Linked DNA regions of Homo sapiens: regions 2, 3, 4 and 5 are each linked to region 1. The links come from fine-mapping of genetic effects on gene expression. A gene starts in region 1. Each other region holds a variant in brackets. All regions are shown on one strand. Distances are from middle to middle. Region 1 holds the start of ARL4C (ARF like GTPase 4C). Region 2 overlaps TRPM8 (transient receptor potential cation channel subfamily M member 8). Region 3 has its middle 17 kb from the start of LINC01891. Region 4 has its middle 31 kb from the start of LINC01891. Region 5 overlaps LOC105373933 (a long non-coding RNA gene).

Region 1 (6,324 bases):
TAACATTCGGTGTGTAATGGACAATAGGCAGGGACTCATAATTTGACTAACTCACATGCTCAAGCATGATCGTGTCCAATTTCTACAGGCCTCCTTTGTAAAGAAATGTGTAACAATGGGGGGAAAGTCATAATTCTACCTGAAAACATGGATTGTAAGAGGAAATAAAAAAATCAAACAGTATGTTTTAAGTTTCCCTTTTGATACTGTGTTTCAGGGTAAGTGACAGCTTCTGCAAACCAAGACTCAGTCCTGATTATAAAGGATTTTTAAAATTACATTATTAAAAATATGTATTTATTCTTCTTTCACTTTATCTATTTTCCAAAGCCTCTTTCAAGTAAACTGTGAAGTGCCTGAGTACCAGTGACCATGACGTCACACTTTCTTTTATCTCAAGCACTCATTGTTGTTTGCATTTGCCCAAAGTGCTGGCTGGCTCCGAAGGCCAGTTCCCACAAGAATGAATTCGGAAAGACTTCATCCTTGTGTTTTTCCTTCTCTTTTAATTCCATGCAACGAGGTCAGCTTTTGCAACAAGGTGGGGTTTTATTTTTTTGGTGCATGACATCAAATACTCTAACGAGACATTTTTAATGAAAGACTTAAACCAGATAGGCCACAATGAACCAAATTAGAAATCTGAACATGTCACCACTTGCAGCATAAAGGAATATAAAAGGGCAGAGCAAAGTCTTTTTTCCTAAGGTGAATATTTCTAAGGTAAGTATTCATTTGTAAAAGTTTTTTTTTTTCATCATGTCTGAAAACCCATTATCACGCGGTTAGTATTACAAGAGACATCCCTTGGTTAAAAAAAAAAATACCATCTTGCAATTCAGCACACACCTGCAGCTGGTGTGCTCATCCAAACCAATCAGTAGGCTAAGAGAATTTAAAATTCCATACATATGAGTCTAGGTATTAATGCCGATTACACAGTACACAGTACAGAGGGAGGTCCCTATATCCACACACACACACACCCCATCCAGCATTTACACCAAAAGCCTTACCCTTTAAACACCTTTAACTATCCTGCAAACAGTAAATGCATCATTGGCCACCACCTCCAATAGTTCGTCTTTTTTTTTTTTTATTTTTTTTATTTTTATTGGTCTCTTTGTGTGATAATGACCTACACATGGACAGGGTCCAAACCATCTGGAAGATGTCTGATTCCAGGCTGAAAAGCAGTTCTCAACAAAACTGGTCTTCTGCAGCCACCACAAAGCACCAGGAAAAGGGCACCTCCGCGGCCATCCCCAGCCAGGCCAGCACAGCGCTCCGTGCCCGCTGAACCGTCCCAGGCAGTCCTCTGATGACCCAAACCACCACCACCTTTGGGCCCAGAGCAGGACAAATGAAATTTCAACAGGGGCCTGCCCTGTGACCGAAAATTACTCAGCTTCACAGCCCCTGAATGCAAGGAGAGGTGGTCCCCCCAGAACCAACATGCCCCCCAAGGTGGGTACGCCCACGGTTCTGGGAAATGCATACCTCAGGTAATTCACAGGTGCGATCCCCCAGTGGAGGCGGGGCAGCCTGAACTTCTGGCCCTGCAGGAGTGGGAAGAAATCGCTTTTGTCTTTCCGACAACTGAGCCTTCCACCTGGGGCTGGGAGGGCGGACAGCAGGACCGGCTCTTCCACTCCCCACCGCGGCCCCCCGACCTGGTCAGTAGCTCTGGCGTTCAGACAAAAGGTCCCCTGAGCTGGGGGTGGGGGGCAGGTCGAGAGTAGGCCGGTAAATCAGACTTCGCAGCTCCTTAAGTCACCAGTCCTGCATTTGGGTGCAGAGATTCCGTTTTAAAAATTCGAAGCATCGCTTTGGTTCGCTCTTTGTTCGCGGGCGCGGGTTCTCGCTCATCCATCCATCCATCCATCCAACCATCCATCCATCCATTCATTCTTTCTTGACGCACTCGCTCGCTCCCCGGTCGCTCCGGGCGCATTACCGCTTCTTCTTCTGCTTGAGGGACTTCCTGCGTTTCAGGATCATCTCATAGAGCTTGTCCATGCCCTCGGTGAGGCCCTCGCCGATGATGGCGCACGCCGGCTGGACGTGATAGGTGGTGGCCGGGATAAGCTCGTGCAGCGCCAGCTGCTTCTCAATCTCTGCCACCGGCAGCGACTTGGGCAGGTCCTGCTTGTTGGCGATGACCAGCAGCGGCGTGCCCTGGTTCTCGGCGAACTTGGTCACCTTGTGCAGCTCCGTCTTGGCCTCCTCCAGCCGGTCCACGTCCACCGAGTCCACCACGTAGATGATGCCGTCCGTGCAGCGGCTGTAGGACTTCCACAGCGGCCGCAGCTTCTCCTGGCCGCCCACGTCCCAGAAGTGGCAGCTGATGCCCTTGGCCGTGCCGTTGCTCAGCTTGATCTTCTCGGTGTTGAAGCCGATGGTGGGCACCGTGTTCACGAACTCGTTGAACTTGAGCCGGTAGAGCACCGTGGTCTTGCCGGCCGAGTCCAAGCCCAACATGACGATATGCAGGGACTGGAAGGCCGAGATGTTAGAGGAGATGTTGCCCATGGCTCCTGGCTGCGGCGCCAGCCACTGCGGCTGCGGCGGGAGGGCGCCGCCCCCCGAGCAGTCACGGGCCCGACGCGGCCGGGCGCACCTGGGCCCCGCCCGCCGCCGCCCGCACCGGCCCCGGGGCTCGGCGTCCCCGCGGGCGCACGGCTTGGCGCGCTCAGACGCCGCAGTCCCCGCGCCCTCGCCGGCCGGGCTCGCGATCGGCGGGCATCGCGTCTCTACGCGCGGCTTTGTCTCCCGCGAAGCCGCCTCAGATGTTCGGCGCCCTCCCCAGGCCTGGGCTCGCTCTGTGGTTTCCTCGGGCCGCGCCCCCGCGCTCCGGCAGCTGCCCGGGCTCTCCGCTCTCCCGGCGCCCGGCGCTCGCCTCTGGCCTGGGACGGCGCTGCTCCTGCTCCTGCTCCCGCTCCCGCTCCCGGAGCGCGGGCTTCCCCGGGAGTCGCTGTCCGCTCGGCAGCCTCACAGTCCCCGCGCCGCCGCAGCAGCCGCCAGCCTGCAGCGGCCGGAGAGCTCCCGGACCCGCCCCCTCGCGCCCCGCCCCGGACCCGCCCCCGGACCCGCCCCGGGCCCCGCCCCGCCCGCCGCCGGGGGTCAGGCGCGGTCCTCCCCGCCCAGCCGGCCGTTTTCGCGCGCTTCGCTGCGTCCCCGCCGCCCCCCGCCGCCCCCCGGCCCCTCCCGCGCCGCGCCGCGCAGACACAATGGGCGCGGAGCCGGCTCTTCCTCCCCAGCGGCTGACGCGTTTGCAAAAATAGCTCTCGGCTCCCGGAATCCCCGCCCGGGTCCTAGCCCGCCCCCTGCCCCTCCGGGCCGCAGCCGTGGGCGACGCAGCCTGCCTGAGGGAGTGGGTCCCGGGGTCCCAGCTCTGTGGGCGCGAGGCGGGGCAGGGCGGCCCCCAGGGTGACTGGGAGAGCGCCGCTCTGGGGAGTGAGGGCGGCGAGGCTGGGGCCTCCAAACCCCAGAAGGGACGGGACGGGGCTGGCCTCGGTGAGCTGCCAGCCTGCGCTCTGGATCCAGCCGGGCGCGTCCCCTCCCACCCTCGCGCCGCGGCTGTCGCCGGCCCCGGCCCCCAGTGACGCCCAGGCTCGCCTCCTGCCTGGGTTCCAGGGGGCTGCACCCGGCCAGCGCCGCCCTCCGGAGCCCAGGCCTGTGCCCAGGGCACCCTGGAGGCCCAGCCTTTCTTGCCCGGTGGCGGCGGTTGGGGCAGGGTCGGACCTAGGCCGCGATGGGGGATTAGAAGACCTACCTGCCCCAAGTAGCTCGGACAGCTCACCCTCCCAGACACGCCTGGGCTACCTCATTTCGTCCGCATCGACTCTGCTGACATCCCAGGGGAAGCGTCAGCATTTCGGGAGAGCACCCCTTGCCACCCGACTTTGGGAACTGAGAACCACCTGCCCGCAGGTGAACTACTCCGCAGAAATGGCAACACCAGCCCCGGGGGCTGAAAGAAAATGTGTCTACAGCTTGGAGCTGGTGGCGCAGTGGGTTACAAACACTGATATTCCACGGGTTCCACCTCCTGTCACCTCAGTTCAATGGTTTTATTCTGGTTTGTAAACATGTAACAAATGTATATCCTCTCTGGGTGCGGAGAAAAGTGAGAGTATATTATGGCAAACACACAGATCTGGGGAGAGCTGCTCCGCAGGAGACAGCAGGCCGCAGCATGGGCGACCGCATCTTCCCAGCTCTAGCTTATGAGACAGAAACGACGGAAACGGGGTCAAGGGAGAAGAAAATGAAAATGCTAAGAATTTATGAATAAAAGCTAGAATTTTAGAGAAATACTTTATCACCTTCTGTTCACAAACCACGAAAAGACATATGATATCGTTGGTACCAAAGCATGTGAGAAGACCTCACCTGTAGAAGGAAGGACAAGCCACCACCACCCCTATCCTTGGAATTCCCAAGGTGGCAGCCGGAGCGACCATCCACTCTACTGAGTGGATTTGGGGCTGGAAACGAAGTATCAGGCTGGAAAGGACCCTGCCTATCATTCCACCCAACGTTGTCCAGTGAGGTAACAAGGCCTAGGCGCCCGTGACGGCTAAGGCAGAACCTAGAGGCCCACTGCCTGCTCCAGGACCAAGGGTCTGTATGCACAAAACTGGGCACCTGCCTGCCCTCTTCCTCACATCCCACTCTACCCACACGCTATTTCCTTCAATGAGGAATAAAGTGAGCCACCCGAAGGATAGAGTTCAACAGAAAATATTGGCTGCACTGTGCCACTTACTTCATTTTAAATAAAAATGGAAATGTATTCACTGACATCACTGAAAAGTTAAGGATAAAGGTCCTCTTCAGGCATGGCTAGACCCAGGAGCTCAAAAGGAGTCTTTCGAGCAGGTGTCTCTCCAGTCCTCCTCCGTGTTCCCCTGTGTTGATTCTTTTTCCTTCTGGCAGCCTTGGACTCACATCCTTGGTTTAGATCCTGGAAAGGAAAAGGTACAACTCTTTCCCAGTAACTCTAACCAAAGCCTGGAGCACGCACCCTGGATCAAGGACTGCAGTCCAGGAGGAGGGAACACACCAGTGGATGTGGCCCAGGGGTTGAAATCGGGAAGGGTGGTTCTCCAAGAAGAATCCAGGATCTGTCACCAAAAGAGCAACTCTAGTGAGGCAACAGAAACAACATATGTTGGCATAATTCATAATGATGATGTTTCCGTTATTGGGAACCCTGGGGAGACAGGATTTTGTGTTTTTGGAGTGATTTTCTTGACTCTCTTTAATGCCTGCCCCATAGATAGCCAGCTTCTCATGAGACTGTTTCTTGTTTCTCTTTCTTCTCTGCCACAGGCAGGGCCGAGGCTGAGCCCCAACCCAAGATGAGCCTTTGGTTTAGTAGCCTGGGACCTGGACATTTGGAAAGAGACAGATCAGACTGGAAGCCTCTCCATCCGGCTTCCACAGATTACCTTTGTGTTACTTCCTTTTCCCCTAGTCAAGACTTGCTTTAAGTTTTAAGGTGGTAGGAAGGAGATATTTTAGTAAAGTATCCGATGTATCTTTTTGGTGCTATGCTAATTATTACCAAGAGCCTCAGTGGTTTTGACTGCAGCCTCCACATTTTGCACCACCATGATGGGGTTTAGCAATAAAGGGCTGTCTGCTGTCCAGTAGGAAAAAACAGATTAATAGACATTAATAGAGCCTTCCAGAACACAGCCATTAAACAGCAACTCACCATAATTGAATAGCAACCACTCTACCTGCTAATTTCACTCACCAGGTGATAAGTTAATTTTACAGTTGATAATTTAACTTCTAACACATAAAAATATCATTTGGTTGAGTCGACTGGTAACTTTCCTTCAAATGTGGATTTTTATTGAAAAACACTGGAATTATGAAAAGGAAGGTAATGTTTACCACTCATATCAGACATGTAAGGCCTACTTTGAGCCTATTTCTTCATGGACATACATCATGGCTAAATTCCACTGAGTGGAAAATATTGGCTGCACTGTGGCACTTACTTCATTTTAATTAATCAGAAGGAGAGATTTTTTCAAAGAATAGCATGTACTTGTGTCTGCCTGAGATGAATTCCTCTTCCAGCAGCAGTGACATTTCAGGTCCTCTCCTTTCTATTCTTCATCAAGATGACTGCATCCAGAGAAGAACTCAATTATTTCAAGCAAACAGAAGGCAATAACTTGGCAGTAATTTTGAAATTGCATCCTAAAATATTCTCTTTTTTTTCCCTTTAAGGGCTTTGAAATAAAATGTGCCACCAATTAAAATGACTTTTGAGTGAATCCGATGAGCAATATATCATGGCAT
Region 2 (6,324 bases), 510 kb before region 1:
CCATCCACGTAAGACGTGACTTGCTCCTCCTTGCCTTCCATCATGATTGTGAGGCCTCCCCAGCCACGTGGAACTGTGAGTCCATTAAACCTCTTTTTTTTTTTTTTTCTGTAAATTGCCCAGTTTTGGGTATGTCTTTATCATCAGTGTGAAAATGGACTAACACAGTCATTGTTCTGCTTAAAATTCTGGAAGGATTTCAATATTTCCCTACAGCATTCAGGATAAATTTCAGTCTTCTCAGCTTCCCCACCATGCTCATCCCCTGCTCTCTGTCCCCCGGCAGGCCTCCCATATGCTCCTCTTTAAACAGGGTGAACTGCTATGCCTGATGCTTTGCACATACTTGTCCTCTGTCTGGATTGCCTGTTCCATCCCGAACTTCTCTTCCTGCCCAGTTTCTGCTTGCCCTTTACAGAGCCAGGAATCATCTTTTGCCAGGGTGGTACCTGATGGCCTCCCCACTTCACACAGAGACTCTTTGAGCCCCTATGGCACTCTTTTACTTGCATGGTAACAACCTTCTCTCCTTGAGAATGGCGAACTCTGGAGGGTGAAGATTGTGCCCGCCATCTCAGCACCTGTCACTTTGTGGGTTTATTCAATGAATGAAAAAAATGGGTTCTTACCCATGTTTAGTTCATTATTTAGTTATTAGGAGCTTAGCTTCCTGGTGTATTATATACTGAGAAGCACCAATGGTGAGTAACAAATCAGCAAGAGAATCATCATGTAAAGGTTTAACATCTGCTCTGTGCCAGGTGCCTGGGCCATGAAGATTATGTGGCTGCTAGTTCCACATGGCCCTAAGAAGGGAAGGGGAAACTCTCCCTCACCACCTAGCTGGTGGCAGGGAGGGACTTGAGGATCCAGAAGCCTGTCTGACTCACAGGCAGCCAGCCAATGTCATGATGTCCAAATAGTGTCCAAAAGTCAGAGGGGCCAACATCTGAGCTGCAGAGAGAAGCAGCAGGTTATGGGTGATTATGTCTCCACAAGAGAGGGAGCAAAACAGACCAATCCCAAAACCTGAAGCAAAGGCGAGGGCGAAGTGGGATGGCTTCAGGCTTTTCTTTACAGTGATAAGATGTCATAGCTACACTGGATAGTCCTGTAAGAACTCACCACTAACTATATTTACAGACATTAAACAAAAAGACCAACAGCTCCTAAAACCATGGCCTTTGAGTTATGCTAACTTGGTAAATCTCAACGAGGCACATGGTAAAATATTTAGAGCTTTTTTGAATCTATGCACATGAGCTGTCTGAAGGAGCCATTCATGAGAACCGGGCACTTTTGTAATCCATTACCTGCATTTTGATAATGAAATGATTGAATTTGGAGCTGAGAAAGATGGGAGCCTCGTCTGTCACTTTCAGGTGAAGGAGATGAAGTCCCAGCAGCTCAGCGTCTGTGGTCCTGGCCGCGCGTTATCTGGCTTAACTCAGGTCTCTTCCCCACGAGGCCAGAGCCACTGCATCACATCCTACTGTTGCCCCAGTCAGTGCTTAAGTGTGACAGCTTGCAACATCCCTGTCCTTGGGGAACCTCCTCGATTAGCTCCGGCTTAAACCAGAGGCCTTTTCCTGGCTAATACCTGTCTGGGGACACCAGAACAGCGAGAGACGCCGTGTTGTTATCCTTAGGTTAAATCCTTGGAACACTGTTTCTGATCATTTTTAAAGTTGTTCAGGGCTTACTCTGTGAGCAGATGGCCCCAGGATGTGACCCTTCCCTGGCACCACATCAAAATACTCATTTAAAAGCTTAACCATACACAATGGCAACCTTATTAACTGCAATGCAAATGTACCTTTGGGAATTCTGAAGGAGTATTGGAGTGCTCTCTAGATGGTATTCAACAGAGAAAGGAAATGGATGTGAACATCTGTGATTATTCTACATTAAAATTATCGATCACAGGGCCTGTGTGGCTTATCAGCGGCAGGAAGTGAATTTAAAGTCAGTAAATGACTCCAGGTCGACTTACCAGGAGCTAGGGCATTTATAAGCATTGTGCCCTGAAGATAAGTTCACCCCAGGCAGTTCTGAAAAGGACTCGTCAAACATGTCCTGCTGTAGAATAATTTCTAAAAATGTTTTTCAGATCTTAGGAGTAATATAAACATGCAGAAAAGTAGAAGGAAGAAAATAATGACCTGATACAAACTAAAGGTTTGAGTGCTGTGTGAACAGTCTAAGGGAGGTTATTGAATTGGGGTGAAAAGAATAGAAAGAAGAGCGCAGATAATTGTAATAGTAACAATAGCTAATATTTATTGAAGCTTTCCCATGCTGGGCACAGGTTCAAGTGCTTTACAGGGGTCGCCTCATTTAATTATTACTCATTTCTGTGTAGGTGTGTAGCCGGTGGGCTAGTTCAGGTTCTTGACTTTGGGACAGAAAATAATTTGAAAGTGAGTCAAAAGCAAAAGCAAGCAAGAGAGTTGACTGCAAAGCCAAAGTACACTCTAGCAGCCGGTCAGAACGGGCCACTCAAAGGCAAGACAGCTCTGTCTAATACTGGGGGATCTCCCTTTATGGGAAATTTGCATGATTATTCATGAAGGGGTGGTAAGGGGTGTTGCTATTAAGCATGTTAGGAGTGGTTTCTTAGGTCCACATGTGCAGTGGCTGTACATGCTAGTACATCCATCGCATGTCTTATAAGCATTTTAAATCTCCACCTGGGGGTGTGTTTTTTACTATTATAATGAGCACAGGTCAGCCCAAGGACACTAATCAC[G/A]GGTTTCTGTGCTTGTACAAATGTGGGGATTTTTCTCTTCTGCTCCTGCCTTTTTGCTGTAGGGTGTTCTAACCACGAGCTCAGGATGCGGTCTGTGCACTGTTAGGTGGTTTGTTCTCTTCATCAATTTGACAAGTTTCTTGTTTCCTGTCAAGGGAGGCTCTGACCACCTCATCTAACCTGCCTCAGGTGCAGCCTTATTGCCATTTTACACGTAAGGAGTGGGAGGCAGAGAAAGGTTAAGTCCCTGATATTAAGGGAAGAGATGACATGGAAACATATGAATATAATATATATAATATAATGTAATACAAACAGCATGGAGAGGCTATTTGCAGAGGAGGGAGTTATTAATTGTGAGATTGTTGGCTGGGGGAGCCTAGGATCTGCAGCAGCAGCTAGGTGGAGGTGATGTTTGCTTGAAAGATCATGTACCCAGAGCCCCAAGTGTTGGTAGGAGAGGTAGAAGCAGGGGAGATAATGTTAGTCTAGGGAGGAATCAGCAGCCGGGGAGGGTGGAAATGTAGGCAGGGGCTAGGTTATGGAGAGTCTTTTATAGTATATTAAAGAATTTGGACTTTTTCCTGAAGTTGAAGAGAAATGTCATGGGTCTTCGTGCAAGTATATGGCACAGTCTTAGTTGGTTATTCTGTTAGCAATATACTAACCTGAATTATCAATTCCAAAATCAGTGTGATCCAATCGCTTGTCATCTCTTACTGCTGGCTGTTGTTGGCTTTGTACCTGCTTTTTTGATGTTGCAGAATGAGAGGGGAACCAGGATGTGTTACACAGTTTAACATACACACCAGCGCATCAGAGAGAGCGAAAAGTCACTGTCACCACGGGCCATGGGGCAGTACTGGCTAGATACTGCCTGTGTGCTGGGGAAGGAGCGACAAAGGAAAATCCATGAAATCTACGCAAAGTTTGGAGGAGGTGTCCATCTGATAGGGAATTAGCTGACAAGTTTCTTGTATTTCAGTGTATTTGAAAATTCTGCCATTGTTTTAGCATCTACTTTTTCCTTGTGAATTTTTTGCAGACTTTGCATTCTGTTCTGTGGATCTGTCTTTGTATTTTGGTTTTTACTACCAAATGGCTTTGATTACTGAAGTATTTTTTTCTTTTAGGCGTTCTAACATCTGTTGTACAAGTTTCCCTCATTATTCTTATTCAAAACTTTTCTGGCATTTCTTGTATATTTAATTGTACAGAGGAGCCTAAGGCTTATCTTGTGGATTCTTTCTTCTTTCTCCTTCCCCCAAAAATTCTTGTGAATATTATTATGATGATGTTAGGTTTGTAGAATCATTTAAGGGAATTTGGCATCTTACTATTGAGAAGAAATGCTATGATTTTCATTTATTCAAACATATATAATTTCCCAGTAAAGTTTTATGGTCTTTTTCATATGGATCTGGCAGATTCCTTGTTAATTTGTTTCCAGCCACTTATGGTAGGGGGAAAAAAGTAAGGTACTTTTTCTATTATGTTTTTTCAGTGACTACGTTTTGGTACGTAAGAAGGTTATTAAAGTTTTCCTTATTTATTCTGGAATGAGTCTCCTTACTAAATTACTTTTCTTTTTTTTTCTTTTTATCATGTCATGGAAAGTTCCTCCTCTTTTTTGTTTATTAAGCTCCTTTCTCTTTCTCTTCCTAATCAGAAAAGGATGTTATATGTTGCCAGAAGATTTCTAGCAGTTATTGAAATGCTATTTTTCCCTTTGATCTAGTATTATGATGCATTGTACAAAAGATGAATGACATAAATGTTCTTAATATTTAGTCATCCTATTCCATGGTCATGGTGTGTTATTCTTTTAAGGTACTTCTGGACTTCATTTATGTACAAAGTGATCTGAATTCTAAACGTCTGTTCCCTCTTGGTACCATTTCCACTCTCAGTGAGTTTCTGAACTGCTGTCCCTCTGCATGGCCTCTCCTTCCTCCTCCTCTCCTGCTCAGCTGGTTTCAGGAGATGGACCTCAGCTGTCACTGCATGTCTCCAGCCAGCTAGGTGTTTGCCAGGGACAGGACGCCAAGGGCACAAGATATCGCTGGAGATGCACAAAGGGAAAATTGCAGAATTCTCTCAGGGACAACACCAGATGGCCACTGGTTGTCAAGGAGACTTTAAGAACCATCTCAGATGGGGCGGGTGAGACCCTGGGCATGAGAGATGGTCTCTAAGCTGCTACAATGCTTGCTTTGCTGAGGGGGTGTGCACGTGCTGGCCCAGAAAATCCTTTTCTGCAGAGTTCAGTCTCCCCTTTACAGAATTTGAAAACAATGTCTACAGAATATAAACATTGTTTTAGGAAAGCAGGTGGAAGCATCGCTCCATTAGGAGCCCCCCTCTGGAGAACCCTCATGTCTATTTGGCTGAGTCCTGGACTGACTTGAGAGAAAAAGAACATTTTGGAAGCTGCTGCCATATGGGTCAGCTGTACCTCGGTGTATAAATAAATCTCAGCCTAGCCAATCCTGAATATGCATTATTTATGCAAAACGGCTTTTGGGTATTAATGTCCAGTTATCAGCTGGTTCATTCACACCCCCTGGGATGCCCATAAGAGTTCTTGCTATTTGTCTGGGAAAGCATTGCTGCTCACTGGATCCACCTTTGCCCTTGAGGTACAGAGGAAGCTACTCTTCCAGCAGGAGGGGCCGTGCAGTCAACCCAGTTGTCCTGAGGAACAAATGATTGGTGACCTATGAGGCAGAGCTCTTTAAAAGTAGGGAATGATACAAACACAAAGCCTTATTCATGGGCACTGGCCTACGTGCACTGTAGCTCAGGGATCACAGACTTTCTCTGTAAGGGCCAGCTAGGGTCATTGGTCAGATGTGTCAAAAGAAGCAGTATTCAGTGATGCTGTACCCACCTGCACCTCCCTGCTTTGTAAAAGCCATTCTTAGCTCATGGACTGTACAAAAACAGGTGGGGGGCTTGGCTTGGTCCCAAGTTGCAGTTTTCCAATCCCTATTTTAGATGATCTAGAAGACATGTTTTTCCCTGACTCCAAGTGGCCACTTAAGCCATGGTGCAATAAATCTCTTCCTACTTGGACTCTTGTGGGCTGCGTTTCCACTCTGAGCTCTCTGAGGAAGATGGGGGGCCCACTTGCCAGAGAGAATGCTTTCCCCTGCTCTGAGCATCCTGGAAGTTTCTCTTTTCAATAGGACTTATTGCTTCCTTTGGAATAATACCTCAGAAAACAACATCAATGCACAAAAATGGATGCAGTTGTTTTGATTTTTTCTTTGGTGTTAGAGTTTTGGGAAGTCAGTATAATCCATTTTTTGACTAGATATATAGTCAAAGATTTCTATTTCCTTTTTTGAAATAGAGCATCTATTTCTTTTTTGGAAATACAACATTGCTTAAAGTATTTTCACATTCATCTCTTCTTATTTTTAGGTTAAATTCCCCAAACTCGAATATTTCAAGTTACTTCTAGGGACAATAATTTGAATGGTAATAGTTGTTCTGGCCCAAGTAGTAAACTGATTTCTGGCAAGTTCTTAGCCTGAACTTCCCTAATCGGGGGCTGCTGCATGCACACGTGT
Region 3 (5,149 bases), 60 kb before region 1:
AGCCCTTGGTGCTGCTCTGTCTGTGGAGTGGCCATTCTTTTATTCCATTACTTTCCTAATAAACTTGTTTTCACTTTACTCTGTGGACTTCCCCTGAATTATTTCTTTCTTGAGATCCAAGACTGGATCCGGACCCCTTTCCAGTAAGAGTATCAGCCATGACCCATGCAGGAGAAAGAGTGCTTATTTTCCTCCCCCGCAGAGACTAAAGAAAAACAGACATCAATTTTCACAGGCTCTCCTGTCTCTGATTTCCAAGAGCACCCTCCATGAGGGCTCCCGTCTATCCTATCCTTCACTCTGGCCCATTGCCCTTCGTAGCACTCATCCCCACCTGACTTTTTATAGACGTATTATCTGTTTTGCTCTGCTTTGTGGCCCCAGAGTGCAAAGTCCAAGAGAGGACAGCATTGTCCATCTATCCTCTGCTGTCATGTCCACCACAGCACTGGCACGCAGGAGCACTCAGTAAGAATCTGTTGAATAAAAATGCTTGTGGGCCGGGCATGGTGGCTCACGCCTGTAATCCCAGCACTTTGGGAGGCCAAGGCGGGTGGATCACGAGGTCAGGAGATCGAGACCATCCTGGCTAACACGGTGAAACCCCATCTCTACTTAAAAAAATACAAAAAATTAGCCGGGCATGGTGGCGAGTGCCTGTAGTCCCAGCTACTTGGGAGGCTGAGGCAGGAGAATGGCGTGAACCCGGGAGGTGGAGCTTGCAGTAAGCCGAGATCACGCCACTGCACTCCAGCCTGGGCGACAGAGCGAGACTGTCTCAAAAAAAAAAAAAAAAAAGCTTGTGTTTTCTTTCCTTTTCCTTCCCCTATTGGATTCAAACCAGAGGATTGCTGGCAAAGACTAGGAGAAACCGATGGTGGTAGTGGGGTGAGTGGCCACTGCTGGCCAGGCAGAAGGCTGAACCCTGTGGATTTCCTACATTGGTTTTTGGTGGAGTTGGTGTTTTCCTGGAATGGGCTGGGGGAGGCCTGCTATTCCTTGCAGGGTCTCTGCAGATCAATGGCTTGAGCCTTTGGAGGATTCGCCTCCCAGATTTCAGAGCTCTGTTATCTCTATCCCCAGCAGGGCCATTTCCACTTCCTGACACAGTGCCTCCCCACCCCTCCCTCTGACACACACCCAGAGTACAAAAATCCATTTCCTTTGCCCAACTACGGTTTTCCAGGTCTCCCCACGCTTCACTCCTTGGTCTTAAAATCCTTTTTGATTCCTTATGAATCTGCCTGTCTTTGGTTAAATACCACATAGATGGCTTTAATGTGTATTGTGAAAATCCATCTCGAGTGCTTCCAGAATATAAAAATGTGACCAGATCCAATGGAATCATTTCAGGAGAAGTAGGGCAGTGCCGAGAGGCTATTTTTAAACTCTGCATTCTGGTGGTTTGGTGACCTGCCTGTCTCCTGTTTTCCTGCCCAATGCCAACGCTGAAGGACTTGGTGCTCCAGTTTTGGGTCAGTTCATGGTGCCCGGTGGAGTCCAGCATGGCCCCAGTGAGCTTGGTGTGGGACTTTTTTTTTTATGGAGGAGCAAAGGTGGAGAAGCCTGAGAAGCTTCCAGGAGACTGGTGGGGAGGGATGCTGAGGGGAGGTACCACTGTTGCAGAGCAGAGACCTGGAAGTTGCTGCAGGGGCTGTGGGAGGGCTGAGGGGTGACGAGCTGCAGAATCAGGTTCCTCCCAGGCAGGCGGGTCTGGAGAAACCACACCAGAATGCCTGTGGCGCCGCTCCCCCCGAGTCCCTGCTCCTTCTCCCTTGCATAACAGGGCCCTGCATGTTGGCCCAGGTCAGTGCACACACTTGGGCTGCCCCACTGGAACCCTTAGGCACCACACAGTGTATGGGGGAGCCCTGGAGTCCCTGTGCTGGCTGTCCTGAGCCCCAGACCCCACACGGACACCGAGTGGGACGGTGCAGTCGCTCCACATCCCTCCACACAGAGGCCACTTTGTGGCGGGTTCCACCTGCCCTCTCTCTCCTTGACTTGCTTCTTTCTTTGTCAAGCAGTGCACTGTCTTGAACTCTAACATCAAAGTATTTCTTTGACCTGTCCTCCATCTGAGTATAAGTACCACAAAGACAAGCATTTGTTTTGTTTACTGCTTTTTCCCCGGCTCCTAGAATCACCCCTGGTATATAGTAGGTGCTCAATAAAGGTTTGCGGGGGGAAGAAAGGTAAGAAAGATGGAGGGAAGTCAAGAGAGAGGGAAAGGGAAAGAGTGGGGTTTGTTGGTTCCTCCTTGAGTGATACCACCCACCCTGGGAGAAGCTGAAAGCTCCACATGCTGTCCCTCCCCAGTGACAGGGACCATCCACGCTGTGGCCTCCAACTCAGCTGCCTCCCTTCATAGGCATCAGCCTTGGCTCTGAGCCTCACCCTG[G/T]CCTCTTCTCCCTGTGGGTGCCCCTGCTCATGGTACCCGAGGGAACACCACCAGCAGAGAGTGCAAGAAGCAGACCAAGTGAGGACCTTCAAGCATGCATAACCACAGGCACCATGGCACTGCTTCTCTTGGTGGAAGAGAGAGCAGGGGAGAGTGGTGTCCCCCGTATTTGGTTCCTATAAATTCTCCTGATCTGTCTGCATTCACAGGCTGGGAAAGACCCTCAAACGGGCTGCAGTGGCCACCCTAAGAAGTGTTCTTCTTCTGCTTCAGACCCATTTCTTTCAGGACCATAAGCAGCTCTGCTCCTCATCTCCCACGCTGTAGACAGGGATCCCTGGTTGGCACTGTTTTCTCTGTCCCTAGGATGCCCGTGTCCTTTGGCTGCAGGCTCCCACCACCCAGCCCTTGCTCCCTGCACAGGGTGGTACTCAGTGAATATGTGGTAGCTCTTCTTGGGTTGAAGAAGAGAGGGCAGAAGAAAACCTGCCCCTCCACTTGCTTTCTTGCAGTGGCTTGTCTCAGCTTGAGTGCTTCCCTTCCCAACTGACCACATCTGAGGCTTTGCTTTGTGCTCCATCCATTCAAAACCAAGCGACCAAACGATGCTTCCCTTGGGGATTTTCTTTAGAACAAAGACCATTTTCATCAGCACTCTTTTCTCCCGCTCCTGGGTTCCTTCCACCTTTCATGAACTGAGCCCCCTTCTGAAGTAAGGCGTGGGCACCCTGAATGGAAATGGCTAGATTAATGCGCATGCATGTCCACACTGGTGCAGGGCACCTGCTTTTCTGGGACAATTGCCATCTGGAATCAGACGCCTTCCTCATTGTGTGCCTATTTCTGGACAAAGAAGAGGAGAATTGGACGAGAAGCAGGCCTCCTCTCCCACATCCTCCAGCCACCTGGCAGGCCCGACTAAGACACCCGCTCCAGCTCAGGTGGTTTATGTGGCTCCAGTGAGTGGGGCAAGTGGGGCGTTTCATCCCAACCTTCTGCATAACAGCATTAGCAGATCAGACACTCAGGTCTGGGACAACATGTCCTGAAGGGCATCTCTGGGTTCCCCCTCCAGGGCCTTGGGTGCTGCCCTGCCTCCTCTGCTGAAGGCTGCCTACCCCCCACCGCCAGAGCAGCAGAGTTCCCTTCAGTAGCTTTCAGGGACTGGAAGGATAGTGGGCTGCCTCTCCCCACAGGTAAGGCTACCGTTGGTCTCCTGGCTCTCGGCGGGCTGGGGGCCCATCCCTGGATAGCAGCTACGGGGAAAGACATGGCTCTGGAGATGGAGGCGAGAGTCAGATGCTGAGACCTCCAACAATGTCCGCTTGTGGAGGCTTTACTATTTATAACACTTTTGTTTTCTACAATGAATAGATAATGCTTTTAGAACAGAAAAGTGAAACGTAAATCAACTCCGCAAGAAACAGGAAGCTCAAAATTTAGATCCGAATAAGTCTTTCCACCCAGGGCTGGTCTAGGGATAGAAGAAAGACTAATGTTTTTGGTAGGAGAGGAAATGGAGGTGAGGGGCTGTGCTGGAGAAGTCAGCCTGCGGGGGGCGGGGGCAGGCGGGGTAGAATTTCAATTCTGCTCTCAATCTTGTTTTCTTAGAATACAATAAAATATTTTCACATAAGATACTGGTCTGGAGGGCAGGCGTGGTGGCTCATGCCTGTAATCCCAGCACTTTGGGAGGTCAAGGCGGGTGGATCACCTGAGGTCAGGAGTTCAAGACCAGCTTGACCAAAATGGTGAAACCCCGCCTCTACTAAAAATGCAAAAATTAGCTGGGTGGGGTGGCGGGCGCCTGTAGTCCCAGCTGCTCAGGAGGCTGAGACAGGAGAATCGCCTGAATCCGGGAGGTGGAGGTTGCGGTGAGCCAAGATCGTGCCATTGTACTCTAGCCTGGGCAACAAGAGCAAAACTCCGTCTCGGTGAGGGGTGGAGAGAAAAGATACTGGTCTGGAGTGATTTATTTTAGAAATATCAGATTCTGTTAAGTTTTTTATAAATTGTCTTTGGGAGTGATTGAAGAAATAGTGCGATGTTTTGAATAATCCAAGATCTAAATGTAAACACAATTTAATAAAATTAGAGACAAGGAAAACTATACATGGGGAGACTATATTACTCTTGACAGGAAATCACTGTGTATGTGCAATTATATTCATGTATTTGTCATTTGTATCTATCATATATATATATATATATATATAACCTAGGGAAAGATACCATACACCTAATCAAATGAAAAGTGATAAATTGGAAAAATATTTTCAGCACATGTCAGACAAAAATATTCATATGCCTATTGTACAAGGAGATCTCACAAACTGATAAGAAAAACCGATGATCAATTAGAAGACAAGGTCAAGGGGAACAGCTCATGCTTCACTTGACTTGGTGATTCTTCAGTAACGAGGGATCCCATCCCATCCATATGAAGAGTTGGCTTCATGGGAACAGTTTGAACCCTTTTTGGTAATATGGGGAGAGGCCTGGCCCAGGGTGCTGGGGACCCCCAGTAGGATTGAAGGGAAGACTCTTGGGAGCACCCAGACAATGGCCAAAGGGGATCTGAAAGAAAAGTTTTCAGCAGCGAAGTCACAGGGGGATCAGGTGTCTACCAGGAGAATGTGGCTGGGCAGGAAGCAAGTGCACACTCTGGAGTGTAATTGAGTAGGTCAAAATCTGTGCTGTTGTTCCCTTGCCTGCAAAAATAATTCCCTTTCCCCTGTTCTCCTCCTT
Region 4 (6,324 bases), 74 kb before region 1:
ACCACTCCTGGCTAATTTTTGTATTTTTGGTAGAGATGGGTTTTCACCATGTTGGCCAGGCTGGTCTCGAACTCCTGACCTCAGATGATCCACCCGCCTCGGCCTCCCAAAGTGCTGGGATTACAGGCGTGAGCCACCATGCCAGGCCCTCAGGCTTTTTCTCTTAAGACCTTTGGATTGGATGAGGCTCAGCCACATTATGGAGGATCATTGGCTGTACTCAAAGTCAGAAGATTTAAATGTTAATCACACCTAAAAAGTACCTTCCCAGCAGCATCCAGATTGGTCTCTGACCAAACATCTGGGCACCATAGCCCAGCCAAGTGGAGACTTCAAATTAACCTCTGTCAAGGGTGGCCCCCAGAAGTGTGGTTCTAAACAAGGCAGCAAGGGGGAGAGCGGGGGTTGTGGGTGGGAAGGAAGGTCTGTCAATAGCAGCACCACCCAGTTCAGGAACAAAAAGCTGCTGCCTGGTTGTTAACCTCTGAACTCCATGGCTGCAGCCCCCAAGTTAAACTGCTCCTTACTAACTGCAAACCAAACATGACGTCAGCCTGCTTGCAGTGCAGAGGCTGCAAGGAGATAATATTTATAGAGAATTCTTTGATTTCCTGGAGAAAGGTCAGAATCTGAATTGATGGGAATATAACTTCAGAATATGTAGACTCTTGCCGGGCGTACTGGCTCACGCCTGTAAGCCCAGCACTTTAGGAGGTTGAAGTGGGTGGATTGCTTGAGCTCAGCAGTTCAAGAACAGCCTGGGAAACACGGTGAAACCTCCTCAATACAAAAAAAAATAGCCAGGTGTGGTGGCACACTCCTGTAGTTCCAGCTACAGGTTCTGGGACTGTTCTGCCCACCTCAGCCTCCCAAAGTGCTAGAATTACAGGCATGAGCCACTGCACCCGGCCTGTTATGTGGTTTCTTAAGAAGCTACTCCTCCAGTTCCGGCAAGGCGGCTCATGCCTGTAATCCCAGCACTTTGGGAGGCCGAGGCAGGCGGATCACCTGAGGTCAGGAGTTCGAGACCAGCCTGGCCAACATGGCAAAACCCCGTCTCAACTAAAAATACAAAAATTAGCCAGGCGTGGTGGCATGTGCCTATCATCCCAGCTACTCGGGAGGCTGAGGCAGGAGAATTGCTTGAATCTGGGAGGCGGATGTTGCAGTGAGCCGAGATCACTTCACGCCACTGCACTCCATCCTGGGCAACAGAATGAGACTCTGTCTTGAAAAAAAAAAAAAGCTACTCCTCCAGCATTTCTTAATTATTTCCTGAGTGGTCCCTGGAGGTTCCCTTTGTCCCTCTGGGGATGCTTGAGTAGTAATAATTGCCCTGCCTTGCGTTAATATTGAACGTTCAGATGGCTTCCATGAGCATGATTCCATTCTACTTTTTACATGATCGCCCCAGGACTATCACATTCAGGTGGTCCTAAATAGGGACGGTTTAACCGTTAAAAAAAAAAAAAAAATAGAAGTGTACCAGCAGAATGAGTATGATTGCAAATAACAGCAAATATCCGCTTGACATGGCTTGAGCAATAATGTATTTGTATTTAGTGGGTAGTGGCACATGCAGAAGTGAAGATAGGGGATTGCCAAGTCATTTTTTTTTTTTTGAGATGGAATCTCACTCTGTCGCCCAGGCTGGAGTGCAGTGGTGTGATCTCCGTGCTCACTGCACCCTCTGCCTCCCAGGTTCAAGGGATTCTCCTGCCTCAACCTCCTGAGTAGCTGGGATTACAGGTGAGCGCCACCACACCTGGCTAATTTTTGTATTTTTAGTAGAGACAGGGTTTCACCATGTTGGTCAGGCTGGTCTCGAACTCCTGACCCCGTGATCCACCTGCCTCAGCCTCCCAAAGTGCTGGGGTTACAGGCATGAGCCACCGCACCCGGCGAGTACCAACTCATCTAAATGGAAGTGTGCTCAGATAGCAAGCAGGAGACATGGACTTCTGTGGCTTCCCATGATAACTGGGTTATGAGGACCAACTTTAAGCCTATATGTCAATCAGTTTATATGAGGTTGGACTGATTTCTACTGTGTGCAGCCTCTACAGGAGCATTTATACTGGTTTCCTTTTTTTTTTTCTTTCTACCTGTAGATATCTTTAAGATAAACAAGCTGAACACCATTAACTATGGTAACCTCTGCCATGCTGTCTCTGTTCCTTGAGATCAGATAGAGCCCGGACAGCAAAGAAGCACGTGGCCCTGATATTAAGATACAAGCATGCCAACAGCTTGCATTAGTATTTGTGGAATGGATGAGTGAGTCATGATATATTTCCCCAAGCTTCAGCTGGGTGTGTTTTTCATGTAACCATTACTCATAAAGTGTAAAGGTCAATTATGTTAGGAAGGAAGGAATGATTTTTGTCATCCATGCATAGGACACTCAGGTATGCTTCCCTGAGCTTCATGGAGCATGGTTCCCTGAGCTCACTCCTGCAAAGGCCACGCCTATTCATGAATGTTGACATTAACCAGAAGGTAGGGACTGTATATGTGAATTGAGCTTAAATCTGAGCTGAGGAATTCTATGACAAGTAACTTCAAACACGTCACTGAGTTTGAGTTTACCATAATGCATAAGACTATTTCTAAAACTTGTAATTGCTTCTGTTTATTTACAGAGTTTGATGCATATTTGAGCATTTATTTACTTATTCAAAATTCAAAAAGTTCCAAGAAGTATAAAAATGGCTGAACAGTGGCAAGAATTTTAGAAACCATAGAAAAAAACCCGACATTATTAGGGAACAAAACAAATAGACTAGGAGATAAAAATGAAGTTTTGTGTTGCAGAAGCTGGCAGGGATCCCCAGTGAGAGAAAAGAGGTATCAGGATGAGGAGAATGATAACCACAGCCTCATCACATAGGAGAGCGGCTGCTTC[C/T]GTCAACAGGGTGTGTGCTCACAGCTTCAGGTCTGCACCGCACAGCATGATGCTGAGACAGGAGGTCAGCACGTCACATAATTACAACTATATTCTTGTAGATGGCAGGATAATGGCATCCCCCCACCCTGCCCCCAAAAGATGTCCATGTCCTAATTTCAGGAACCTATGAATGTGTTATATGACATGGTAAAGAATTAAGTTTGTAGCTGGAATTAGGGTTGTCAATCAGTTGACCTTAAAATAGGGAAATCACCTGGGTTATGCAGGTGTACCATCACTAGGGCCCTTAAATGCGGAAGGAGGCAGAAGAGACAGGTGGGCGGGCGCGGTGACTCACACCTGTAATCCCAGCACTTTGGGAGGCTGAGGTGGAGGATTGTTTGAGTCCAGCAGTTTGAGACCAGCCTGGGCAAGATAGTAAGACTTTGACTCTACAAAAATAAAAAACTAACCAGGCATGGTGGTGCATGTCTGGGGTCCCAGCTACTCAGAAGGCCGAAGTAGGAGGATCACTTGGGCCCAGGGGGGTTGAGGTTGCAGTGAGCCATGCCACAATTTTGTCTGCACTGCAGCCTGTAGTGCAGAGCGAGACCCTGTCCCCATCCCCCACCAAAAAATAATAATAATAATAGACAGGTCGATGAGATGTGACAAAATATCAACCCTCTGTTAAGGCCACCAAAAATAAAAAATATTAAAAGGACACACAGCCCTGCCAACACCTTGATTTTAGCTCATGCCAGACTTCTGACCTTCAGAACTCTAAGATAATAAATTTGGTTTGTTTTAAGCACCACATTTGTGGTAATTTGCTACAGCAGCAATAGAAAACTGATACAATTATATTAATAATTTTAAAGACGGCATATTTTGCCAGGTAGAGTGAATCATCATTTTGAATGACTTTGAATCCAGAAGAAAATTTATGTAAGGAAAGGGCTTAATTGAAAACTAAAACATGAAAGTTCTTGGTGGCTGTGAAGGTTTTTCCTAGGACTGGAAATCCCCTGGGCTCCCCTCACACTTTGAAGTCAACCTAATTGGAGGGCCATGCCTCGATCCTTTCGGGAGATAGGTGTCCCTGTTAGAGTCTTCAGGTGTATGTTATACTTCAGGTGTCTGCAATTACCTTACCCAGGCCTATAAGCTCCTTGAGAACAGGGAACGTATTTGTCTAATTTTCAGGACCAAATGCAACATCCAGCCTCTAATTGGGGCTTAATAGGTATTTGTTGAATAAATATTTCCAGTGTCATTGATGCAATATTCTGACAAGTAGAAAGATCAAAGCTGGGAAGACGGGGGCTGGGGTGGAAGGAAAATAAATGACGTTTTGATTTTTTAAAGGAACAAAACTTTAGATAAGGCCAGTTTCAAATCATCTTGGCTTTGTTGTGTTTTCATCTCTCCAGAATTGGACTTCTGTGCTCAATTCAATGAAAACACTCAGAGCACAGATTGGGATCACGGACTTATTTTCAAAGCATGTTCCCACACATATTAACAATTGCTCAAAATTAACTGTAGCATCTGTTTAAAGTTGAATCAAATTGAATTCTCTATTTATAAAAATGGAGTTTACATAAGAGAATGGAAACCATGTACAGACATTTAGCATGACACTTCTGCTTACACCATTTCAACAAATAAAAAGAAATTATTGTTCTGGGAGAAATACACATTCCAAATCTTTGTAAAATGAAACCCTTCAAAATTAGGAAATGGAACAACTCTTTTTTTTTTTTTTTTTGAGACAGTCTTGCTTAGTCATGTTGCTCAGTGCAATGGCGCGATCTCGGCTCACTGCAACCTCTGCCTCCCGGGTTCAAGCGATTCTCCTGCCTCAGCCTCCTGAGTAGCTGGGATTACAGGCACCTGCCATCATGCCCAGCTAATTTTTGTATTTTTGTAGAGATGGGTTTCACCATGTTGGCCAGGCTCATCTTGACCTCAGGTGATCTGCCTGCCTCGGCTTCCCAAAGTGCTGGGATGACAGGCGTGAACCACCGCACCCCACCAGAAATGGAACAACTCTTAATGAGTGACATGAGCTACCAGATAAAGGAACACTATATAAATTTCAGGGTCCAGGGTCCTAGAAGTGCCTGGAGCTGAGCCCCTGCTCCCCAAGTCTGTACACATGCACCCTGGGTGCTCAAGCCACAGGCCCTGTTGTAATGGGAAGAGAGAATTCCCTCTTGCAGGAAAGCGGGCTACAAAGATGAAGGGTGGTGGGTGGCAAGAGAGGCCCGGACACACCCTGGGCCCAAGCCTCACTGGTAATGGTTGGAGGGTGGTGGGAAAAGCCATAGGAGATTCTGGGGGAGGTCACAGGGATGGGGGTGAGAGCGAGCTAAGTGGTAGCCAGTGGCGGGGCCCCTGGTGGTTGGGTTTTATTGGGAATGAGGCCGGGCAGGGAGTGACTATAAGACCCAGCTGGTCGTGGCAGAGGTGGGAAGGGAATTTAGGGAACTTGCTCTCTTGGCTTCATGTCTGGGGACACAGCACGGGTGAGGCTGGTGGGTGGGTTGACCTGCTGGTGGTCCCTTCAGACCCCTGTCCCAGTTAGTCCCTGGGGACCCGTCCCTTTGGACCTGACTCCTTGGGGTTGAGTTTCCCCTTTCACCTGGCCAGGATTTAGCATCTTCTTCTGGAGGAATGAGGAGGTTTGGGTGACCTGCCTCTTCCTCTTTCACCTGGCCAGGCTTTAGCATCTTCATCTGGAGGAACAAGGAGGTTTGGGTGACCTGCCTAGTGCCAGGGCAGGACGACTGCCACCCTGAGTCATGTTCTGCTGGTGTCTTTCAATTAGGCAGGAAAGCTCACTTCACAAGGAGCTTCTGTGTCACTGGAGTTATATGGAAATGAGGACATCAACGCAGCCCTCAGGGGCATGCGGGAAGAAGCAGAGGATGGGCCAGAGAGGGTCCTCCCTACCCTCCTCCCAGGTTTGGCCCTCTAGGCCACTCTACCCACTGCATACAGGGATGGGTGTGGTGCCCAGTTCCTCACCCTCTGGGACATAGAACTCCACCTACCCACAAAACCCACTTCCTCAGAAGCGTTAGGGCTGCCTCGGTGCCCTAACTGCAGGTGTGCAGGGCGGGGCTGAGGAAGAGGCAGTTAGGGCTGAACCCAGCAGGAGGGAAGCAAGCTCGCCCAGCTCTAGGTTTCTTGTGAACCCTCAGGACCTGCCTTTGGAGGCAGGTCCTGAGACTGCTGGAAGAAATGAAAATGATGACGATTACAAAGATGAAGGGAGAGAGTGTTAATGAATCACAGATCTTCCTTCCCCTATCAGGTCACCTTGTGTCAGTTTAACAATGACCACCCCCCCCCCAAAAAAAAAAAGCCACACACACACACACTGAGAAGGGAAACACTTTGTTTTTCTGCACTGTCTGAGCTCCATCAGA
Region 5 (6,324 bases), 200 kb before region 1:
AACTCCTGTGACTCTGAGGGATTACCAACTTCTGTCAATACTTTATTCAGTGTTGAACCCCCAGGTGATGCGTGGCTCACTTTACCTGAACCTTCACCTCCCAGAGAGGTCTTGGCATCTGCCTGCTTGTAGGGACTGTGGCCCCTGTCCATGCCCTGCTCCTGCCCTTTGAGTTCCAGGGTCTGTCTGCTGTAAAAGCCTGCTGGACTCTGCTCCTGACTCAGTTTGACCAGCTGGCTGGGCTCTGGTGTGGCCCACAGCCTAGGAGGAAGGATGTTGTGTCCCGGCCAGGTGCTCATGGGCTCAGTGAGCAGCACTTTGAACTCTAGGCGCAGTAACAAGGGCCTCCCTCATGACCCCTCATGACCAAATGAACCCTCGACTCTGGGGAGTGGTCCTCATCTTGCCACTCTATGCCTTTATACCCAGACCCAAATTTCCTCCAGGGCAGTGGTCTGTTCTTACCTGCCTTTCCAAATGCCAGTCTTCCACCCTAAATTCCAGTGTCCATGGATGGGGACCCATCACTGCTGTCCAGGTTCCGAGTCACCCTCCTGCCTCCATTTTCACCACATACCCAGCCCAGCCCAAGAGATGGGACCTCTCTGATGGGAGCTCTCAGGCCTTTGCTTTGACTCTGACTCAGAGCCTCCCCGGACAGTGGTGCAGTGTGTGCACTGCTCACCCCCAGGCAGTGTTGCTCATACTTCAGTCTATAAAAAGCAAGGCAAGGCCTGAACAGCTGCAAACAGCAGCCCTGCTAGGGCATAGCTTTCCAGCTGTGATCCAGGCATGTGGCCCTGGCTGCTTCATGAAAGGCCCTGGATCTGAGCCCTGGCCTGGCCTCTTCCAGATGTAAGATGGGGAAGAGCTCAGAATCTCTCTGAACCTCCATTTCCTTAACTGTAAAGTGAGGGGCTGGATTGCTTGATTTCTAAGCTCAATTATCTAGACATGCCAAAATGTACTATCTACCTGATTCTAGAATCTCTCAAACCTGCCCTAATCTGCCTGTACCAATGGGCTCTGGAGAATGTCCTGATGTCACCAGATTCATGCCTGAGATGAAAGCCTTAGGATTCAAGAGCCCAGCTCTGTCCTTCTCCAATGCAGCCTCAAACCTCCTGCTGTTCCTGGCCCCGTGCTAGCATCCCCTTCCCACCATCACAGGATACCCTAAAGGCCCTGATAACAGACATTTCCATATTACTGGGCTCACGCCTTCATGGTGGACCTCCTGGAGGTGGGCATAGCCCATGCCCAGGTAGAGAGGAGCAGGAAGGCATGGGCATGTTTGGGGAGGTTGAGAGAGACCAACCTGGCTGCATCAGATAGAGAGCACCAGTGGCTGGTCTGGCTAGGAATCCAGGTCGGGGCCCTAGAGTGGCCACATTTACTTGCTTTTGCTAAGGTAATTTCAGGTTTGGTAAGGCAATGAGTGAAGATCTGTTGGGCAGGTGGTCTCTTGGTGCCCTGTAATCACGTACTTGAGTCTGCCTCCCTCATCTCACCCCAGTGGTGACTCATAAATCAACACCAAAGCCAGTTACGCTGCCATCCGGCAGAACTCGTGCCCCAGACACCTTGGGAGGAAGTGGAGCCAGAAGTGAGAACACTCTCTGAGGGTGAAAAAACTCCAACAGTTCTTCTGTTCTCACGCCGCGCCACAACAATCAACACAGAAGGCTTCTACGACCAAATGTGTGGGGATTTCTCCCCACCACCGAGCAAACTGCCCAGACATGGACACCGGCATGAACTGGGGGTCCTCCAGTTAAGTTCTGACACTCTCTACCTGGAGACAGCGTCAGATCCCAGGGGTTGGGGGCTTAGTCCCCCAAGACCACCCCTGACCTTCAGACATCACTCACTAGTACAGGCCTCGGGAACTTCTGACAACCAGCTATAAATTGATAAAGACCCCCTCTTTATTAATTTGCTAGGGTGGCTCGCAGAACTCGGGGAAACCCTTAGGTTTACCATAAAGGATGTTACAAAGGATACAGATGAAGAGATGGATAGGCGAGGTATAGGGGAAGGGGTGCGGAGCTTCCATGCTCTCCCTGAGTGTGACTCTCTCCGGGAACCTCCATGGGTTCAGCTACCTAGAAATTCTTAGAACTGTGTCCTTTTGGGTTTTCATGGAAGCTTTGTGACATAGGCAGGATTGGCCATTGATGGTCAACTTAACCTTCAGCTTTTCTCCCCTCCCTGGAGTTCAGGGTGGGGCTGAAAATCTCAACCCTCTAATCCTGCCTTGGTCTTTCCAATGACCAGCCTCACCCTGAAGCTACCTAGGGGCTGCCAGCCATCAGCCAACTCATCAGCATTCAAAAGTACATCACTTTGGAGATTCTAAGGATTTTAGGAGGTGTATGTCAGGAAATGGATTCAAAGGCCAAATATTTATCTCATAATATCACACTCCTAAACTCATAGGACACTGGCAAGGACACCAAGCTCAACTCCTCCCCATTTCTGAATCCCTGGGCTCCATGCTGCGCCTATGGCTGCTGCACAGTTGTTCTGAAGGGGCCCTGGCCTGCATGTGCCTGATGCACACAGCTGGAGGGTGTCCTGCAGAGATGGGACCATTAGCTGGCAGGCATGTGTGGTGGAGGGGACAGGGGAGCACGTGCCATAGTTCGATTTATTTTTAGGTATGTGGGAGTCACTAAAGGCAGTAAGCAAGGGTGTGATGTAATCAATTGTGCATTTTAAAGTGATTGCTCCAGCTGCCTGTGGAGAATGGATTGGAGAAGGGCCAAAGGGCACTCAGGGGCGTCAGCTGGGAGGCTGTGCTACAGTTCCCAGGAAGGATGTGGCTGCAACAGTGACAGAAAACACATAAACAGG[G/A]CAATGGACTATAGGGTGTTCGTGCAACCAGACACACCCAGCCAAGAGTATCTCACCTCCTGCAGGTCAGATGCAGACACCCTCTAACCACTGGCATTTTGGCCTCTGGAATGAGCCTGGTGGTGATAAAGTCTGGAGGGCCACAGGTGACCATATGAGCCACAGGATGCCTCAAGACCAGAGACATCCTCGCAGAATCAACAAGAGGAGAGCAAAGGACAGGAAGAGACTCAGGCAAAACTTTTGTCTGCACAACCAATTCCCATCTTCACCACCTGAACGCCACCCCAGATGACATATATGGGGCTGCTTTTGCCATCCACATGGCTAGGACAGTGTATCTGTAGTTGTCAACAACAATCAGAGGACCATATCAATTAAACCAGGAACTTTTCCATGTCGTTTCGACTGAATCATATAAAGGTAGACAACATCGCACTATGTTGGTGCACAGAGCACTCTGAAATGATTCATTTTTCGCTCCTTTGAGGCGAAGGCAAACCTACAAGCAGAACAAACCGCATCCGGAGAGGAAGTGATAAAGCTCAGAGGAGCAGCAAGAATAACCATGGCGACAATCTTGCAATTTAGAGGCTGCAAATAAGAGAGATATTTACTTTGGAAATGCAACTGAAAAAAAGAAAAGCTGCAATGACAACAGCATAGCAACAATCTTCTCCTCTGGGCTCAATGAAAAAGAAATGACAAGACAATGAACCATCTCCAGGGGCTGTATGTAAATCCAAGATTTCCTTTTGACATAACAGTGTGAAAGATCATCAGTGAGGAAGGTGAATCATTCAGGCTTTTAAAATAGCTTTTTATTTTGAGATCTTGTAGATTCACCTGCAGTTGTAAGAAATATTATATTCTGTGTACTCTTCACCCAGTTTCCCCCAGTGATAACACTTTGCATGAGGAAATTGACATTGAAACAATGGTTCAGTTTTGAGGAAGTATCAGATATCAAAGAGATACTTTGTCATGTTTGGATAAAAATGTAACACTTCTGTATTAAAAAAAAAAAACTAAAATTACAAGAAAACCAAACAGGAAAAAAAAAAAGCTTTTTTATTAATCCTAGCAAGGAGTTTATTCTATACAATGCGTATGTTCACATTTACAAGAAAAACAGTGGCCTTTGAAAATATTTTGATGGCCTGTAGAGTTATAACCAGAATCACTGCAATGCAGTAATATTTAAAGAAATGTATGAGGCAACACTGGATGAATTTACTGATTGAGATGTCATTGTTTTGAGGAATTATTGTTTGTGGCCTTTCTGAAATCCTCCATCACTACCTTTTACATTCAGGAACTCATCAGGCCCTTCCAGCATTACATTATAAGAAATATAGTGTATCATGCCTGTAATTCCAGCACTTTGGGAGGCCGAGGCAGGTGGATCACCTGAGATCAGGAGTTCAAGATCAGCCTGATCAACAGGGTGAAACCTCATCTCTACTAAAAATACAAAAAAAATTAGCCAGGCATGGTGGTGGGTGCCTGTAATCCCAGTTACTCAGGAGGCTGAGGCAGGAGAATCACTTGAACCCGAGAGGCAGAGGTTGCAGTTAGCTGAGATCATACCACCGAACTCCAGCCTGAGCAACAAGAGCTAAAACTGTCTTTAAAAAAAAAAAGAAAGAAAGAAATATAGTGTATCTTTTTCCTGATTCATTCATTCAACAAATATTTATATACTACTATTGGCCCACTATTTTCTTTAGGGGAAAACAGGAATGGCCCCCCCAGAAAGCCCTCTGGGGAGCTGAAATTCTAATCCATTATTGGTTTTGTCTCAACTATAATTGCCCTTGTTTAGAATTTCATCATCTTCCAGAGGAGTCGCCCTCTGTACAGTCTTTCCCCACCCCTCAGTTTATTCTCTGCATTGCTGATCCTTCCTCAACAGACACTGCTAATTATGTCAGGTTTAGGGTCAAAATCCTTCCCGAGTTTCTATCACTCACGCCCCCGACTTCCACAGGGGGCAGTTCTGAGCTCCTCTGTGGCTCTTAGTCATCCATCCCCTACCTTCCTGTGTACCTCCTCATTCATCCACCTTCTTCTCTGCCCACACAGCTGGCCCAGGCTTCCTGTCCAGGTGCATGGTCCTCCTGTGCCAGGGGATGAGTTGGGGGCTGGGTTGGGAGGGCTCCTCTTGCCTTTCTGCCTGAAGAAGCCCTACTCATTAACCTTTAAGTCTAAACATGACCTCTTCTGTTGAATAAAATATAGAAAATTCCATTTAGTGGGAGATTGCATGGAGATCACCAAATAACTATCTATTGATTGGATTAATGTGCTGTCATTCTATTATGAACAAAGTGATATGTTTGTTTGTTTCAGCATTGTATCTTAATGCCTGTGATGCTGTGACAATGTAGCAACAGTGATTTCTTTGGAGTGGTGCGTGGAATCCACTTAGCACTTTGTGTTATTAATCTTTTTTTTTTTTTTTTGCTGAAAATAAAAGTCATTGTAAAAAATTTAAAAATTAGAAAAAAAATATGGAAAAGAAAACACCAAATATCCAGCGTGTAATATTGCAAGGTTTGGGCATATTAATATTTTCTTCCCTTTTCCCAGTACTTTTATTTACTCTACGTTGATTACATATACAATTTAAACTTTTGTGGTTGTTTCCACTTAAAGTATATTAAAATGTTTTAAGCATTTGACACAAGCTGCCAAATGGATTTTCAAATGGATTGTAAAATTTTATTTTCCCAAATCATTAGATATGAAAATGTATGGCTTTCCTACCACATCTTCATAATAGCTAGCATTAATTACTAGTTGAAGAGGCAAAATTTGGTATATTTTCTTCACCTTTGTTTTTCTTTGAGTCTTAGGAAGGTTGACTAAATTGTCATTTCCTTTTTTTTTTTTTTGAGACAGAGTTGCACTCTTGTTGCCCAGGCTGGAGTGCAATGGCACAATCTCGGCTCACTGCAACCTCTGCCTCCTGGGTTCAAGTGATTCTCCTGTCTCAGCCTCCTGAGTAGCTGGGATTACAGGTGTCCACCACCACACCCGGCTAATTTTTGGTATTTTTAGTAGAGATGGGGTTTCACCATGTTGGCCAGGCTGGTCTGGAACTCCTGACCTCAGGTGATCTGCCCGCCTCAGCCTCTCAAAGTGCTAGGATTATAGGTGTGAGCCACCACGCCCGCCCAATTGTCATTTCTTTATAACGTGTTTATATTTCATCTTTCTGAGTTTCCTAAACTTTTTATTTGCCACTTTACTTAATGGAATATTCTAGGTTTTCTCATTGATTCATATGAATGATTTATTTGCTAACACTCTAAGTCCTTTCTCAATTTTATTGAGGGAAGAGTGAGGTTTTTATAAGCCCATAATTTGCCTTTCATTTATTTTGTAATGCTTGATGTATAATTTTTGTGTGTACTCAAATCTATTCATCTTTTTCTTTTTAATGCCTTCCACTACTAAGCTCAG

The links. PIP is the estimated chance that this variant, and not a neighbour inherited with it, causes the effect.
Region 2: its variant is fine-mapped to the expression of ARL4C in whole blood (TOPMed, PIP 0.92).
Region 3: its variant is fine-mapped to the expression of ARL4C in whole blood (INTERVAL, PIP above 0.99).
Region 4: its variant is fine-mapped to the expression of ARL4C in whole blood (TOPMed, PIP above 0.99).
Region 5: its variant is fine-mapped to the expression of ARL4C in whole blood (TOPMed, PIP 0.97).

What each region holds. Positions count from the first base shown.
Region 1 is chr2:234,494,055-234,500,378 of GRCh38, forward strand. ARL4C (ARF like GTPase 4C) reads right to left here and starts at 3,027. Exons shown (of 2, transcript NM_001282431.2): 1 at 1,958-3,027; 2 at 1-1,782. The coding sequence starts at 2,532. The coding sequence ends at 1,752. RefSeq lists silencers at 2,605-2,704, 2,815-3,104 and an enhancer at 3,289-4,062.
Region 2 is chr2:233,987,880-233,994,203 of GRCh38, forward strand. All of the region lies in intron 21 of TRPM8 (transient receptor potential cation channel subfamily M member 8), which reads left to right. Among named protein-coding and RNA genes, the nearest start is that of SPP2, 60 kb to the right of the region's middle. RefSeq lists an enhancer at 2,648-2,697. The variant G/A (reference allele first, on the strand shown) is at 2,750.
Region 3 is chr2:234,434,919-234,440,067 of GRCh38, forward strand. No RefSeq gene overlaps it. Among named protein-coding and RNA genes, the nearest start is that of LINC01891, 17 kb to the right of the region's middle. The variant G/T (reference allele first, on the strand shown) is at 2,402.
Region 4 is chr2:234,420,136-234,426,459 of GRCh38, forward strand. No RefSeq gene overlaps it. Among named protein-coding and RNA genes, the nearest start is that of LINC01891, 31 kb to the right of the region's middle. The variant C/T (reference allele first, on the strand shown) is at 2,906.
Region 5 is chr2:234,289,282-234,295,605 of GRCh38, forward strand. All of the region lies in intron 2 of LOC105373933 (a long non-coding RNA gene), which reads right to left. Among named protein-coding and RNA genes, the nearest start is that of LINC01891, 160 kb to the right of the region's middle. RefSeq lists an enhancer at 1,682-1,731. The variant G/A (reference allele first, on the strand shown) is at 2,857.